Linked DNA regions of Homo sapiens: region 2 is linked to region 1. A link means that fine-mapping ties the variant in region 1 to the expression of a gene that starts in the linked region. Tissue or cell type: monocytes after R848. Region 1 holds a variant in brackets; the other region holds the start of a gene. All regions are shown on one strand. Distances are from middle to middle.

Region 1 (4,260 bases):
TATGCTTCTTAATAGCCAATACTCTGGTGTTGTTTTAAAAGGGTTTCCGACTTTCATTTGATGTAGGTATCTTTCACTCATATCCCGTTAAAGTGGCTCAACTGTACCTTTCTCTTGCATTTTGAAAGCATAGGTGATGATATTCCAAAGGCAATGTGAGGTTTGTGAATGTTGGATACCATTGCATCTGTCCACTTCTTCCTGTGGCCTCTGTTAAATGCTATTATGTATACAAATTATTTTCTCATAATTGTGTATAATCTAAATTATACATTGCTTTGCTTGGTTTTGTTCTTATTTCCAGCACTAAACCGAGGGTTCATTGTGAGATACAACCCCTTTTTTTGTTAACCTTGAGAGTTTAACTGGCTAATGAAAACTATGCCAATCTTTCCTTCTTCCAGCATTTTAAGTCTTCCACATCAAGCATCTCCAGTATCCCGCACCCCAAGCCTTCCTGCTGTAGACACAAGCTACATTAATACCTCCCTCATCCAAGACTATAGGCATCCTTTCCACATGACACCCATGCCTTACGACTTACAAGGTGAGTCACTGGTTCTTCTACATTGTCACATAGCATTATGAATGCCTTTGATCTATATAATTCTCTTCTAGGTGAATCTAAGGAAGAACTGGAAGACTGAGCCAACAGGGCCTTGGACCCAGGGAACTGAGAGAAATAATATGCCGTTGTTATAAATACTGACCCAGTTCGTTGATTGTACTGTCATCAGTAGCCAGTGTTTTACTCCCAGTGGTAAAACTAGTGCAATAATCTTTAGTTTTTGTGAGCTCCTGAGTACTCTGCAAATTGTTTTTGAATGACTGCTAGTATGTGGGTTTGAATTTTGGTATTTATGAACATTATTTTTTTTTGCCGTGGGGAACGGAGTCTTGCTCTGTTGCCTGGGCTGGAGTGCGGTGGCACGATCTCAGCTCACTACAACCTCCGCCTCCCAGGTTCAAACAATTCTCCTGCCTCAGCTTCCCGACCGAGTAGCTGGGATTATAGGCGCCCACTACCACACCAGGCTAATGTTTTATATTTTTAGTAGAGACAGGGTTTCACTATTTTGGTCAGGCTGGTCCTGACCTCGTGGTCCTCCTGCCTCGGCCTCCCAAAGTGCTAGGATTACAGGCGTGAGCCACCACGCCCAGCCCTGTGAACATTATTTATTGTACCCTGACTTTAGTTGTAATGCAACAGGCATTGTGGGTAACTATGTTGTATTATGTTTTAGATAATGGTGAGTTGAGACATTTGAAAGTTTTAGTTTTTATTCTAATGAATTTGATCCTTCTTAAAAATTTTTTTTTTAATTTTGTGGGTACATACTAGGTGTATACATTTATCTGATCCTTCTTTTTAAAAGCTGTTTGAAATGTCAGTATACTCATTTATATATTTTGAGTTCATAATAATCATTTATATTATCAAAAAGAATTGTTTTTATATCTTTGTAGCATAATAATTTGAATATTAGTCATATAATCTAAGAACTTTTTTTTATTAAAAAAGCCATATATGCTCATTGTAGAAAATTCAACACAGAAACATAAAGTGAAAGTTTCCCTCTACCTATCCCCCAACCCCATTCCCGGGAAGTTACAGCTAGTGTGTGTGTGTGTGTGTGTGTGTGTGTGTGTGTGTCGGAGTTTTGCTCTTATTGCTCAGGCTG[C/CGTGTGTGTGTGTGTGT]GTGTGTGTGTGTGTGTGTGTGTGTGTCGGAGTTTTGCTCTTATTGCTCAGGCTGGAGTGCAATGGCGCGACAGGCATGTGCCACCACGCCTGGCTAATTTTGTATTTTTAGTAGAGACGGGGTTTCACCATGTTGGTCAGGCTGGTCTCAAACTCCCGACCTCAGGTGATTCGCCTGCCTTCGCTTCCCAAAGTGCTGGGATTACAGGCGTGAGCCACTACGGCCAGCCAGTTACAGCTGCTCTTAACGGTTAGATATCTTTCTATACCTTTTTTTCTACATGTATGAAACGCACTGTCACTATCAAGAACAACAGTGCTATGCATTTTGTAAGCCTTCGTGTTGTAATCGGTTATAATGTAGACAGTGAGTAGATGCCCAGAGTATCTGTGGTGTTGTAATATATTTATCTATAGCTGCGTGTTTTACCTTTCCCCAAGTTTAGATATCATAATGAAGCATTTAATTCATGCTTGTTCACTTGCTCTTCATCGCATTACACACTGGGTGATCTAGAAAAGAATGTTAATTGGAAGGGGCCTCCTTGCAGTGAATCCTCAGCAGCCAGGTAGCAGAACTACTCCTTCTTATGTAATAGTAGCCAGTTTGCAGGCACTCAAACCTCTTCTCCCCTCATGCCACTGCAGTCTGTCAGTTGAATCTGATAGCAAATGAGCAAATTTAAGAAAGAAAAATCAGTACTACAACTTACTTAACCTAACTCTTTCAACTTCAAACTTTCTCACCTGCAAAATGAGGGCAAAACTAATTACATACCTCATGAAGTGCTTGTGAGGAGTAACTTAGAGCAGATTGAAAGTTTCCTTAAGAGGAGTCCAGAGCATTTGTTAAAAGTACTATGCCCGTTTAAGGATCAGTGTTAGATCTGACAGAGTAGTAATGGCCCCAGTCCCCCAAATGGGGTCACGGAGAAGACAAATCATTGCCAAAGCTTAGTTTTCAGCCTTAGTAATCTAAAGAAAGGAGAGACGTAAAACGTTTAGCTCAACTCTTCATGTTTAAATAAAATTCTGAGTGACATAGCATATAAGACTTGTATTTGTTTTTGAAGTATTGGGGCATTTGGAAGAGTTTTTCCTTCTTTTTTTTTTAAACTGAAATAATTTTTTCTTCCACAGGATTAGATTTCTTTCCTTTCTTATCAGGAGACAATCAGGTATGTTATGAAAAATTTACTATTATTTTAATTGTACATTAAAAATACAGTCATGCGCCACATAATGACATTTTGGTCAATGACAGGCCATATATGCATTCCATAAGATTATAATGGAGCTGAAAAATCCCTACATCAATTATAGCCATGGTAACATTGTAGCACAAGGCATTACTCACATGTTTGTGGTGTTGCTGGTGTGAACAAACCTATGCTGTCAGTCATGTAAAAGTATCACACGTATAATTATGTACAATATAACGATAATAAACAACTCTGTTACTGGTTTATGCATTTACTATATTTTTTATTGTTATTTTAGAGTGTACCTCTACTTTTTTTTTTTTTAAGTTTGCTGTAAAACAGTGTGCCATGTTATTCCAGGACAGCCTCATACATCCCAGTTTGCCACATCTCTTGATTGCATCATTTCCTCTTGTGCTTGATGAAAATCTTGTCTTGTTTTGTTCATCATGGCCCCTAAGCATACAAAATCCACAGCTAATGTTGCCAGTAAGAGGCCACATCGAGTGACTGACATGGAAAAAAATTAAGTGATTAAGGACGATGAAAGTGGAAGATCAGTGATAGTTATTGCTCACCAGTCAGGCAGTCCCATTCTACCATAGCTACAGTCTTAAAGAACAAGAACAAAGTGATAGAAGCTGTTAAAGGATCTGCTTTGTTCAAGGCAACAAGACTAACAAAAATTTGAGAAGGGCCTGTATCAGATATGGAGAAACTTGTTAGTGACCTGGATTGAAGACCAGACACAGAAACATATCCCTCTCAGCACCATAATGATCATGGCCAAAGCAAAAAGTTTGTTTGCAATGCTTAAAGAAAAGACTGGACCCAACTACAGTGTTAAATGTACTGCTAGCTCCGGGTGGTTTAAACGATTGAAGAATCATTATTCATTATGTAATATCAAAGTGAGTGGAGAGTCTGCAAATGCAGATGTGAAGGCAACTGAAGAATTTTTGGAAACTCTAGATAAGCTGATTATGAAGGAAGATTACTTGCCAGACAAATTTTCAATACGCATGAAACCTCCCTATTCTGGAAATAAATGGCTGAAAGGACTTTCATCCATAAAGAAGCCAAGTCAATGCTAGATTTCAAGGCTTTTAAGGACAAGATAACAGTCTTGCTTGGGGCCATATTGCAGGCTACAAATTGAAACCCTTTGTGATCTGGCACAGTGAGAACTCCAGAGCCTTCAAGCATGTCAGCAAGCACACACTGCCCGTGTACTACAGGAGCAATAAGAAGTCATCGATGACCCAGCTTTTCTTCCAGGATGTCCTCCCGAATTGCTGTGCCAGCAAAATGGAGAAGTACTGTTGAGAGAGTAACATACTTTTCAAGATGATGATTTTTGTTGATAATGCTCCCAC
Region 2 (4,000 bases), 94 kb after region 1:
TATCCTCTCTCCAGATTTGCACAACCTGACCACAGAAACGTCACCCTCTAAGCCCAGGTAAACAAGCAACTAAATAGTCTCCAGTCAGCCAATAGCTATTAAGAAACCAAGGGAGCCCAGAAGCCTATACGAAGCAACTTTGATAAACACAGAAGAAAACAGCAGCCCAAACCTCCTGACTTTGGGCTGCTGGAGCAAAGAGGTATTCCCATCTTGGGATGGAGGCCACACAATGCAAGTTCTGAGCCCCTCTCTAGCTTGACCCTTGGAGCAGTCACCCCTTGTAGTACCCATCCAGTTATACCACCAAACTGAGGTAGAGAGGGCACGAGGAAGAAGGGAGTCTCTTATTCAGCAATGAGTCTGGATGAATCAGGTCTCCCTTAGAAAACAAAACTGGAAGAAGGGGCCTGTGTCTGGACTTTTTTACATCACCTTCTTCAGAAAGTTGGTTCGGAATAGAATGTAGAATGATTCAGGAACATAATAGGGTAAAAGGCTATGAGGAGATGGTTTTTCTAAAGAGCCAGGCACTCCTCCAGGTCAGCTTGTGCCCAGGTAATCAAAGTGTGTTGGCAGAGGAGAGGGAGGGTGGTAGGGAGACGGAGTTAGAGATATGGAGAGACAGAGAGAGATAGAAAGGCAGAGAGGAGACAGATGGTAGATGAGGTGCATGCTTGCCGTATGGAGCCAGAAAAGGAAGTCATCACACATCTGAATGTGTGAATCCGAGACCAAAAAGCCTGGGTCCCTGTCAAACACTGGGTTTTTTCATGACCCTGAAGTCCCCAAATAAACCAGCCAGCTTCCCCCACTTCTCTATCAGCTATTTCAGAGACGCTACCAGTAGAATCTTACCTTCAGCCCTTATTGCCAATGCTGTTTTTGTTTATGGTAAGGAGAAAAATAACTCGTGTTTCTGTAGGGATCTGCAATAAGTGGGTAAAGCTGAGCTGTAGAATGGAGAGAATTTGAGAAGTGACCCACACCTCCACCAATAGCTGCAATGGAAGTGAGGCCTTTACCTCCTAGAATTGGAATGGTGGGGTTCAAATAAAATAATGTATGTGAACTTGTTGAGCCGAGCCCAGTCCCTTGGAGCCACATAAATGCATTTGTTCTTTCTCTATGGTAAATTTTGTCCTTTGGGGAAGGGAGGAAGAGGGAGGAAGTCACTTTCATATTGAGTTTTTTGAGACTGTCCCAGAAGCTTCATCACCTACCATTCACTCCTACCATCCTAATCCAAGGCCTGTCCCCCTATCTACTCTTGCCTTCCAGAGTTTATTCTCCATACAGCAGCCAGAGTGATCTTTTTAAAAAACACAAATAGCATCTTGTCACTTCCCTCTTTAAAACCCTTCAAATGCCCCCATCACAGAGTAGACTTAAACCCTTTGCTATGGGTTATTAGGCCCTAACGTGTGTTGCATCCTCTGACTTCATCTATCATTCTTACTGTGGCCCACTCTGCTGCAGCCACACTGACCTTTCTGTTTCCGAGCTCACCAGACTGTTCCCTCCTCAGGACTTTTATATTAGCTGTCCCCTTTGCCTAGAATACCGTCTGTTCTTGTCACTTGTCATAGAGGTCTTGTCTGATCACCCAAACTAAATGAGTGCCCCCATCATTCTATTTCATTTGCTTCAGAGCAAATGGTAATGATACCAGTTCAACTGATCTTGTCTATCATTTGTTGACTTATTTGTTCCATTACTGAATCCCTAGTGCTAAGCAGAGCCTGGCACGTAGTCGACCTCTAATATTCATTGGATAAACGATCGTTTCAAATCCTAACAACAATCTTGTGATGTCTGTGAGAAAACGGAGGTTCTGCCGGCTCAGGATGAGATTCCTGCTCTGTCTGAACGCGGGACTCGCTTTCCTTCCCAGGATACCTCGCTCCTTCCACCGCGAGCGCAGCTCCCCTTCGCTCCCATCTTTCTCTCACACTTAACCCCTTTCTCCGGGAAAGTCAGGCCGTACTTCCAGTCCCTTCTCAGAGCCTGGTGTTGTGGCTCTCAAGCCCTCCCACATTTCGGGAACTCAGAAACGCCGCCCTTTTCCTGAAATGGACCCTCCGAGTACGCGCAACCCCTTCCCTAACCCCGGCTCAGGGGCAGAAGCAGGACCCGCACCGTCTATAGTAAAATAGGGTGGTCTCCTTAGCCCATCAGCTTAGCGCCCTCACTCCGCCCCCACTCCCTGGCTGGAGACCCTCAGGGCCGTTTAGGGGCCAGGAGGAGGTTCCAGGAGTCAAGGACATTGAGGACATCCAGGCCCAAACGGGATGGGCCAACTACGCGCAGCAGAACCTTTCTCTACCGGGCCCGCGTGTGCCCGCCGGTCGGCTTAGGCGGAGACACCCCACTTAGCGTCCCTCCCGCTCCCGCCCTCTCCTCCCGGCCCTGTCTGCGAAAGCTCGTCTTCCTCCCCGCCCAAGTTCCGGCGCCGCTCTTGCGGGAGCGTTCCGCATCGCCCCGGGGGCCCCTACGCGAGGATCTCCGGGGCCGTTGGCAGCGCCTGGCACTTCTGAGCTCGGCGGACGAGAGCCTGCAGGTTTCCTCCAGTCAGGGACGGCGAAGGGCGGAAAGCGCAGGAGGAGGCAGTGTTAGGCCTTAGGCCGGGTGGGCCGGGTCAGGAGAGACGCGCCCATCTTTCGCCATCCGGGGTGCGCGAGGTCCTCTCGGGACCCGGCCGGCGACCCGTAGCTCGGGCACGCGCCTGTCGCATCCCGCAGGAAGGAGGGGTCCGGCCTGAGGCCCGGGGCGGCGTCCGCCATGGAGATCCCCTCGGTCCAGGGCCGGCGCCTGGGACCTGGCGGGCGGCCCTGACCGCCTTCCTCCCTGCGCGGGCTGGGTCGCGGACGTGCCCTTCGCGGCACTCGGCCTCCTCTGCGTCTCCGCCTTCCCTGGGCCGCACTGCTGCCTGGGCGCGGCGGCGGCGACGGCGCCCTGTTGAATGGGCTGTGAGGGCCCAGGTTTAAAGCGCTGGCGAACGCGGCCTCCGGGGGCGCACGGCAGCTGCAGCGGTGGCGACCAAACGGGTGTTGGAGTTGGCGGCGGCCATGGAGGGCCTGGCTGGCTATGTATACAAGGCGGCCAGCGAGGGCAAGGTGCTGACTCTGGCCGCCTTGCTTCTCAACCGGTCTGAAAGCGACATCCGCTATCTGCTTGGCTATGTCAGCCAGCAGGGAGGGCAGCGCTCCACGCCCCTCATCATCGCAGCCCGCAATGGACACGCAAAGGTGGTACGCTTGCTCTTAGAACATTACCGGGTGCAGACTCAGCAGACTGGCACCGTCCGCTTCGACGGGTAGGTACATCCCAAGCCAGCCTCTCTCCGACGCGCGCGGACTCGTTAATTCACGGGCCCTCCCCTCCCTCACCCTCTCTTACCCTCTCTTCATGTAGGTACTCACTTCTCCCCTTTTTGTACCACCTCCTGCCCCACTAATGCCCACTTCATCTTCCAGGGCTAATAATCCATCCCATGTTTTGCTGCCCGTCCTCATCAGCCCCTACCCCTCATTCCCTCTGTGGGAAGATAACCACACCCTCGGCCTTGAAATCTAATAGTCGTCTTCTCTACTAGATAGTCTGTGAACAAGCCATTTGGAGGAGGTGGCTGCCTTTCCAGGTTTTACTTTTAGTGGAACTGGTGATGTAACTGATCAGAAATTAAGGAGGTCAGCGGTTAACATTGAAGAACTCCGAAAGAGTTATTTGGGCATCCATTTTTACTCCCTTCAAGTGAGTGGTTCCGTAAAACCTTCAGTGGGCTGCTGGGCTTTAATGTCAAAATAAGCACCTAGAACCAGCAGCAGCTGCAGCATCATGAGGGATTGTCACGCAGCCAGACATCTCAAGACATGATTCTGATTCCTCCACGTTGCTCGGTGTAGATATATTGGCTACTAAGATGGCATTGGACCTGATGTGGGAGATGATGCCATTCTTAAATTACATCTTATCCCGTGATGTTGTGGGGAAGCTTGAT

The links. PIP is the estimated chance that this variant, and not a neighbour inherited with it, causes the effect.
Region 2: FEM1B starts here. The variant in region 1 is fine-mapped to the expression of FEM1B in monocytes after R848 (Quach 2016, PIP 0.95).

The regions. Positions count from the first base shown.
Region 1 is chr15:68,180,808-68,185,067 of GRCh38, forward strand. It overlaps PIAS1 (protein inhibitor of activated STAT 1), which reads left to right. Exons shown (of 14, transcript NM_016166.3): 12 at 405-547; 13 at 2,823-2,860. LOC105370871 (a long non-coding RNA gene) reads right to left here. Exons shown (of 2, transcript XR_932396.3): 1 at 2,461-4,260; 2 at 1,491-2,344. Among named protein-coding and RNA genes, the nearest start is that of CALML4, 22 kb to the right of the region's middle. The variant C/CGTGTGTGTGTGTGTGT (reference allele first, on the strand shown) is at 1,683.
Region 2 is chr15:68,275,350-68,279,349 of GRCh38, forward strand. FEM1B (fem-1 homolog B) reads left to right here and starts at 2,396. Exons shown (of 2, transcript NM_015322.5): 1 at 2,396-3,316. The coding sequence starts at 3,069. RefSeq lists enhancers at 2,392-3,293, 3,036-3,235 and a silencer at 2,676-3,005.